Linked DNA regions of Homo sapiens: region 2 is reported to be linked to region 1. The links are microRNA targets in miRTarBase. Many come from high-throughput screens and were not tested one by one. Region 1 holds a microRNA gene; the other region holds the end of a gene's coding sequence.

Region 1 (4,000 bases):
AATCCTGATTCCTCCCCTAGACTAAGGGTATATAGCCAAGTGTGTTCAAACAAAATTTTTTTCTAGAGACAGGGTCTCACTCTGTCACCCAGGCTGGAGTGCAGTGGCACAATCACAGCTCACCGCACTCTCAAACTCTCGGGCTCAAGTTATCCTTTTGCTTCAGCCTTCTGCGTAGTTGGGACTACAGGCGTGTACTATCATGCCTGGCTGATTAAAAAAAAATTGACTAGGCATGGTGACTCACGCCTGTAATCCCAGCAGTTTGGGAGGCCAAGGCAGGCGGATCATGAGGTCAATAGACCGAGACCATCCTGGCCAACGTGGTGAAACCCCATCTCTACTAAAAATACAAAAATTAGCCAGGCGTGGTGGCACCGACCTGTAGTCCCAGCTACTCAGGAGGCTGAGGCAGGAGAATCGCTTGAACCTGGAGGTGGGGAGGTTGCAGTGAGCTGAGATCGTGCCACTGCACTCCAGCCCGGGCAGCTGAGCAAGACTCCAGCTCAAAAAAATTTTTTTTTGGTTGGGCATGCTGGTTTACACCTGTAATCCCAATGCTTTGGGAGGCCAAGGCTGGAGGATTGCTTGAGCCTTGGAGTTTAAGACCAGCCTGGGCAACAGAGTGACACCCTACCTTAAAAAAAAAAAAGAAAATTTTTTTTTTCTTTTTTGCACTTCCTCAGCTGGCCATGGTGGTTCATGCCTGTAATTCCAGCACTTTGGGAGGCTGAGGCAGGAGGATCGCTGGAAGCCAGGAGTTTGAGAGTAGCCTGGGCAACAAAGCAAGACCCTGTCTGTATTTAAAAAAAGAAAAAATTGGTTGGGCACGGTGGCTTATGCCTGTAATTCCAACTTCCAACACTTTGGGAGGCTGAGGCGGGAGAATTGCTTGACCCCAGGAGTTTGAGACCAGGGTGGGCAACTTGGTGAAACCCATCTCTACTAAAAATACAAAAATTAACCAGGTGTGGTGGCACGTGCCTGTAGTGCCAGCTACTCAGGAGGCTGAGGTGGAAGGATCACTTAAGCCTGGGAGGTTGAGGCTGCAGTGAGCCATGATGTGCCACTGTACTCCAGCCTGGGTGACAGTGAGACCCTGATATGGACAAGATTAGCACATCCTCTGCACAAGAATGACATGCAAACTTGTGAAGTGTTCCATATTTTTAAAAATTAAAAAAAAAAAAATTTTTTTTAGGGACAGGATTTTGCTGTGTTGCCCAGGATGGTCATGAACTCCTGCCCTCAAGTGATCCTCCTGCGTCAGCCTTCGGAGTAGCTGGGATTACAGGCGCAAGCCACTGCCCCTGGCTGTGTGTTAAAAATCTAGTTAAGGCTGGGCAGGGTGGCTCACAACTGTAGTCTCAGCGCTTTTGGAGGCTGAGGTGGGCAGATTGCTTGAGCTCAGGAGTTCAAGACCAGCCTGGGCAATGTGGCAAAACCCTGTTTCTACAAAAATTACAGTCTGGCATGGTGGTGTGCACCTGTGGTCCCAGCTACTGGGGAGGTTGAGGTAGGAGGATTGCTTGAGCCCAGGAGGTTTAGGCTGCAGTGAGCTGTGATTATGATTGCACCACTGCACTCTAGTCTGGGCAACAGAGCAAGACTCTGTCTCCAAAAAAAAAGTTATATATTGCCAAATTGTGCTCCAAAAAGGTTATATGTGTTTATCCTTATGCTAACCATATATGAGACTTTCCTAAATCAGCCCTCTTTCTCCGTTATCTCAGCTGGAGAAGCGACTGGAGGAGTGGTTGGGGAGGACATTGCCTGGCAGTGACTGGACACCCAATGCCCAGTTTATCACCCGTTCTTGGCTTCGGGATGGCCTCAAGCCACGCTGCATAACCCGAGACCTCAAATGGGGAACCCCTGTACCCTTAGAAGGTTTTGAAGACAAGGTAAAAACCCTTTTTTATTCATATCATTCAGCCTTAGTGTTGAAACCCTGGGCTAGCAGAGTAGACTGCTGATTATGTCTTGTTTCAGTTTGAGACTTTGGATTGGTCCCTAACATGTTTACCTCCTTCTGACCTCCAGGTATTCTATGTCTGGTTTGATGCCACTATTGGCTATCTGTCCATCACAGCCAACTACACAGACCAGTGGGAGAGATGGTGGAAGAACCCAGAGCAAGTGAGCAGTTCTTGGTTAGGCTGTGCATGGGGAGGGTAGGCGGTAGGGTGTGGGTGTTAGGGTTGGGTGTCTGGTCTTCCTTGGGCCTTTGAAGGAGGTCTCAGGAAATCTCTCCTAACCACATTCCCCTAGGTGGACCTGTATCAGTTCATGGCCAAAGACAATGTTCCTTTCCATAGCTTAGTCTTTCCTTGCTCAGCCCTAGGAGCTGAGGATAACTATACCTTGGTCAGCCACCTCATTGCTACAGGTAAGTACCCTGGAAGACTACTGATGGGGTGTTCATAGGAAATGAGGGGTGAGGCAGTACTTGGAAAAAGATCTTGGAGAGCTGCTATCTTGAGTTAGGAGTTGAGCTGAAATAGGAAATAATTAAAATGAGAACTCAACCTAGAGAAACGAACAAGAACCTGAAGAAAGCAAAAGTCTAAAGCTAAAACTCTTTAGTAGATATAAGCAAAGAGAAAAAAGGGCCAGAATGGATAGGAAGGGACTCCCAAAATCTGAGCATACCAGCCCCTTAAGGAGAAATGTTGCTAGACACCCATAGTTGAGGTTAGAAAGAGGAAAGAAGGAAGAGTTAGTGGGCTAGAGAGGGGAAGGATGTGATGTGAGCAGATGGTTCTCACTCATTCTCCTCTGTCCAGAGTACCTGAACTATGAGGATGGGAAATTCTCTAAGAGCCGCGGTGTGGGAGTGTTTGGGGACATGGCCCAGGACACGGGGATCCCTGCTGACATCTGGCGCTTCTATCTGCTGTACATTCGGCCTGAGGGCCAGGACAGTGCTTTCTCCTGGACGGACCTGCTGCTGAAGAATAATTCTGAGCTGCTTAACAACCTGGGCAACTTCATCAACAGGTAGGACTTGGTAAGGGGTCAGAGTTAGCAGTGAGCTGGGGTGGGGCTCATTTTCCCTCAGGAGATGGGAATGTGGAGAGAACTAGAAAATGGGCAGGAGGCTGTGAGGACACTGTGGAAAGTTGATTTCTATTAATTGGGATCTGTTCCTAGCACATACTAGGCTATGTGTGCTTGATGGAACAGTTAGCTGTAGAGATGTGATTTAGCAAAGTTGGTTATAAAGTGGGTTTTTGTAAATTGTTTCCTTATTACTGTTCTTTGTAGAATTGAAGATGTATTCTCTCCCAGCAAAATAGTTCACCTGCAGATCATTGAAAAGTTTGGCTGAAGAAAGGGGTTATTTTGGTGTGGGGGTAGGAGGCTTCTGTGGGCTGGGCATGGTGGCTTACATTTGTAATCCCAGCACTTTGGGAGGCTGAGGCAGGAGGATCACTTGAGGCCGGGAGTTCAAGACTTGCCTGACCAACATAATGAATCTCCCATCTCTACAAAAAGAATCAGCCAGGCGTGGTGGCGCACACCTGTAGTCCCAGCCACTCAGGATGCTGAGGCGGGATGGTCTCTTGAACTTGGGAGATTGAGGCTGCAGTGGAGCAGTACTCGTACCCCTACACTCCAGCCTTGGCAAAAGAGGGAGATCCTGTCTCAAAAAAAAAAAAAAAAAAAGGCTTCTGCTATACTCTTCAGAGTTCAGAGTTTTTGTTACCTTAGGCTCACATTCTATCATTGGTGCCTATCTCAGCTCTTCTGCAATCTAAAGCAGTATTCTCCAGAATTTAGGATTCTTTAGTCACACTCTCTGAGCCCTGGACCCTTATAGGTCAGTCCTGCTACTCACTTTCAGCTTTGGTAATTAACCACATTTAATAAATAGTCCTTACCTACAGGAGTTCGAGACCAGCCTGGCCAACCTGGTGAAACCCCGTCTCCACTAAAAATACAAAAAGTAGCCGGGCGTGGTGGCGCACATCTGTAATCCCAGCTACTCAAGAGGTTG
Region 2 (4,000 bases), not on the chromosome of region 1:
TAGCCCCAGCCCTATCCCCTGTGTTATCTCCATGCCAGACTGCCCTGGGCTTTTTTTCATCACTGCCCCCCACCCCCCCAGGCCTTGAGCAAGGAACTCGGAAGCTTTGTTACGAATAGATGTAAAGCTCCTGGCTGTCATTGCCATCATCTTTGCCTATACCAGTATGTTCTGCTCCATCCACACCACTGGGGCCCACTTGCATGGTGCCATCCCCCCATGAAGTCTCCATTGCAACATGCTTCTTCATTGTCTTCACTGACAATGGGCAGATGCTGGCTGCTCATCTTTGTCCTGATGGGAGAAGAACCCACCCACTCCTCACTATCTTGGAGCTGGAGATCCCAGATGAGAGGACCAAGTTCTCCCTATGGAGTCTCACTGGCAGGAAAGACATGGGGCAGGCGGGGGGCTGCCATATTTTGATGTCTGCTATGTGCAAGGCACTGTGCAACCTGCAACCACGTTCACAACTATTGGCTCATTTAACCTTGACAACAACCTTACAAGATATAAATGATTCTTACCCTTATTTTCTGAGAGGGAAATCAGAAATGTTAAATGTGCCACTTAAGGTCACACAGCCAGGAAATGATATAGCTAGATTTGAGCCTGGGTCTGACCACCATCTACCCTCAGCCACTCTGGCAACAGGGCACTGGAGACTAGGAAACAATAATCAAAGCTCACAGGCAGATTGTTAGATTTCTATGCAGGATTCCCCTGCAGCCTGGCTTCTTTGAGGCAGTGGGTGAGGGAAAGCACAAGAGTAGACTATGGGCAGCAGGGCTGGGAATTTGAAGGCATGTTCTCTGGCACCAGGGAAATGAAGCCTACTTGGGGTGAGCAGAGGTACAAGACTCAGGGCTAGAAATGGCCAGGGGTGGTGCTTGCTTTGTGGGTGGGAATGAGAGGCCTGGGCAACCTCATCATGAAACTCATTCCTACATCTAGAGGCACAGTAGAGTAGGCAGAGATGAGGGATGGGAGCTCTGCTTCACACAGGATGATGTTAAGGCCCAACAGAAGCTCTCCTACTTGGAGCTACCTCTTCCATAATGCCAGACACTGGGCTACTGGGTCAGGGTAGCAGAGTCCAGAGCTGCAAGGTTGGGGGAACTCTCTGGCCCTTCCAAGAGCCTCCCTCCTCTTTATCCATCTCCTAGCAACCATCATCTGAGTGCTGAGTCCCATCCTCTGTACCCTACCACCAACCTCCTTCCAAAAGAAGGTGGGCAGTGCTTGGGCCAGAAAGCCCCAATGCCTTCCTTAAGAACTACTGGCCAGAAAATCACACTGGTGTCCCTTAAGCCCAGCACCACCAGAGTGATCTCCCAGCCCATACTCACACACAAGGCACCTCCATTTAGTTTTCCCAAAGGCAAGGGGCTGACTGGGTCCTCTGCTCTACCTCACTCACTTCCAGGGCTAGCCAAGACCCCTAGGTGACAGCAGTGAAGAAAGGCCAAGGCATGTAGGGACAACTGAACCCAAGAGAGAATGGAAGGAGGTGATAGAGCAGCGGGACTGGACAGGCACCTCACTGTTCAGGCCGGGTCGGAGTGCAGACTTGGGTGGTGCAACCTGAACACTTACTGAGACAGGCTTGTGGAGAGGTATGACTGGCCTCGTTTGACCCATGAGGAGGTTGAGGTACCCAGAGAGCAGGGCTTCCCTGCCCAGGCTACTGACAGCACTTCAGGGATGCAAACGTCCAAAGCCTGGACTTTCTCTCTAGCTGCTCTTCGGAGCCTGGGAATTTTATGGCCATATAACATGATAGAGGAAAGCCCCTTCCTTCGGGGAAGTCAAGATGAGAGGGTCTCTCTAGCCCCCTGGGCTTTGCTGGTCACTGGAGCCAGACCAGAGGCTGCCTTAAGGCACTCCGACCTCTTAGGTTGGCTTACAGGTGGCACAGGGCCCCCTAAGCCTCCTGGGGCTGGGACTTCACTCTTCATTCAAGCTGTTTAGAAGGGGAAGGAATGGCCGCTTAGCCAGGCTCACCTCTCCCTAGGATGCCTGAGGTCATGCTTGTGGCCAGGTCATGAGATGGGGTTTGCAGCTTCTGCCCAAGTTCCGGCTAACTTTCCACCCCTTCTCTGCCCCACCCCCCCACCACCATGTCTGGCTGCAAATCCCTCTCCAAAGAGAAGAGCTGAGGCCCTCCCCATTCCTCTTGTGGACTCACCCAAGTCCTGCTGCCGGTAAGCTAGGACTCAGCAGAGGGTGGGGTGAATGCTTAATGCTCTGAGCCCTAACACTGAAGCCTCAGTCACAACCCCAGTCCCCAGTCCCTAGCCCATTGTCAGCAAAGACAGCCACACAGTTAAAGTGCATCTCTGGTAATGCTTTATTGATTTGAGGGATCCTGCTGCACCTGGCTCCCTACCTCTCCATTCTCATCTGAAGTGCCCCTCAGGCCTTCCAGACACTTGCCCCCACCAGAGATTATAATACACTCATGAGAATTGATATATGTGTGTGTCTGTGCAAATGCGTGTGTGTATATATATGTATGTGTATATATATACACACATATATATGTGTGTGTATCTCTATAAACACATATACACACACACACACACACACATATATATATATATATATATATATTAGCTGTACAGTATTTACAGGTACAAATAAAATAGGCTTGAAAATTACAGTGGTGGTTGGGACCCATCTCATTTCAGTTTACTCAGCAGATAGAAAAATAAAGCACCAGTGGCCTTTGAATGGCATTTGAATTTCCATGTGAGCAAAGATGGCTGGCCAGTGGGACAGAACAGGTTTGGCTTAAGCTCCAGCTGGCTAAGATAGGCCCTTCCATCTGGCTGGCCCAGGGGCCAGGTCTCTGCTTGAGAAAGGGGCTGTTATGTTAGCCCACTACCATAAGCAAAAGGGATGATGACATAGACCCTTGTCTCTTAACCACACTCTGCTTTTGCTTGGCCTGGGCAGTGTCAGTGCGTGGCCAAAGGCTACACAGGACCCCATGGGGTGGTCGATAAAGTGTGAAACCCAAGTCAGGGAATACTGGTTTCACTGGCATCTCGAGACTTGAGAAAGGAAGGTACTCCACTCTCACATCCCTATCTATGCCAAATCGTCATGTCACATATTAGGGGCCCGTCAGTGCCCACTCTTAACTCAGCCTCATAAAATTCAGCATCGTATTTACACAAATGAAACAGCTCGTGGTGACTGGGGCTGCCCTGCGCTCCACCCCTGTGCCCATTCACTCCAGTCCAATTCCTCTGAAAAAGACACTTCAGAGCCAGCGTTGGCCCCAAAGGCAGGACCAGAACCTCCTGTCCAACCTCAAAAGCATCCTTGCAGCAAACAAGACGGCTTGCCCTCTCAGTCTGGCAGAGAGCTGGGATCACACATTGCTGTCGACCTCTTTGCCCCTGCAGGCGGGGAGCTGTGGAGGCTTCATGCCAAGTGGCGGCCTCACAAGCAGGTGGCTGGTGGCAGCAGTCTTGCTACTCATGCGATTCTCTTCTCTTTTCGGGAGAGTAGAATACAGGGTTGGGGGTGAAGGGGGAGTGGAGTTGCCTAAATTCTCTTTTTCTCCCCTCTATGTGCAGAGGAGCTTTAGGAAAGGGGACAGGACAGGCAGCTGGAGCCACCTGGGCCTGGCTCTGCTCCTGACAGCGGCACCCAGGGGGCTGCCCTGCTCTTATTCCCCCTCGCTCCCTTGGTGCCCAGGGGGCCTGGGTGGTGCCACCCTGGGACCAGCCCAAGGCTCACAGCTTTGTCTCAGGGCCCGCTGCCTGCAGGGTGGGGAAGGAGTCCCGGATCTTTGCCACTTCCATGGCACACAGGTGTCCAAAGACTTTGTTGTACCAGTCAGGAGAACGGCCCCTAGGGAAGCAGAAGAAACCAGGCATGAGCAATGGATTTTTCCCCAGAGCCCTCACCAGGGAGAAGGAAGAAAGGACTTGTCCCCAGCCCCAGGGATCAATAGCATGGGGCAGAAAGTAGGGGCAGAGGCAGGGGA

The links. Region 1 holds the annotated microRNA hsa-miR-6758-3p (ACUCAUUCUCCUCUGUCCAG, at 2,767-2,786, shown strand). A microRNA usually pairs through its seed, bases 2 to 8, with sites in the 3' UTR of a target mRNA and lowers its output. Matches are read on the target gene's strand: a 7mer-m8 pairs with bases 2 to 8, a 7mer-A1 pairs with bases 2 to 7 and ends in A, and an 8mer does both.
Region 2: miRTarBase lists STARD8 as a target of hsa-miR-6758-3p. Seed matches in the 3' UTR shown: 7mer-A1 at 2,680-2,686.

What each region holds. Positions count from the first base shown.
Region 1 is chr12:57,509,965-57,513,964 of GRCh38, forward strand. MIR6758 (microRNA 6758) reads left to right here and starts at 2,724; the gene lies at 2,724-2,786. It overlaps MARS1 (methionyl-tRNA synthetase 1), which reads left to right. Exons shown (of 21, transcript NM_004990.4): 12 at 1,734-1,904; 13 at 2,044-2,139; 14 at 2,272-2,389; 15 at 2,787-3,000. It also overlaps the pseudogene LOC124903093.
Region 2 is chrX:68,724,169-68,728,168 of GRCh38, reverse strand. It overlaps STARD8 (StAR related lipid transfer domain containing 8), which reads right to left. Exons shown (of 15, transcript NM_001142503.3): 15 at 2,333-3,864. The coding sequence ends at 3,747. Among named protein-coding and RNA genes, the nearest start is that of STARD8, 79 kb to the right of the region's middle.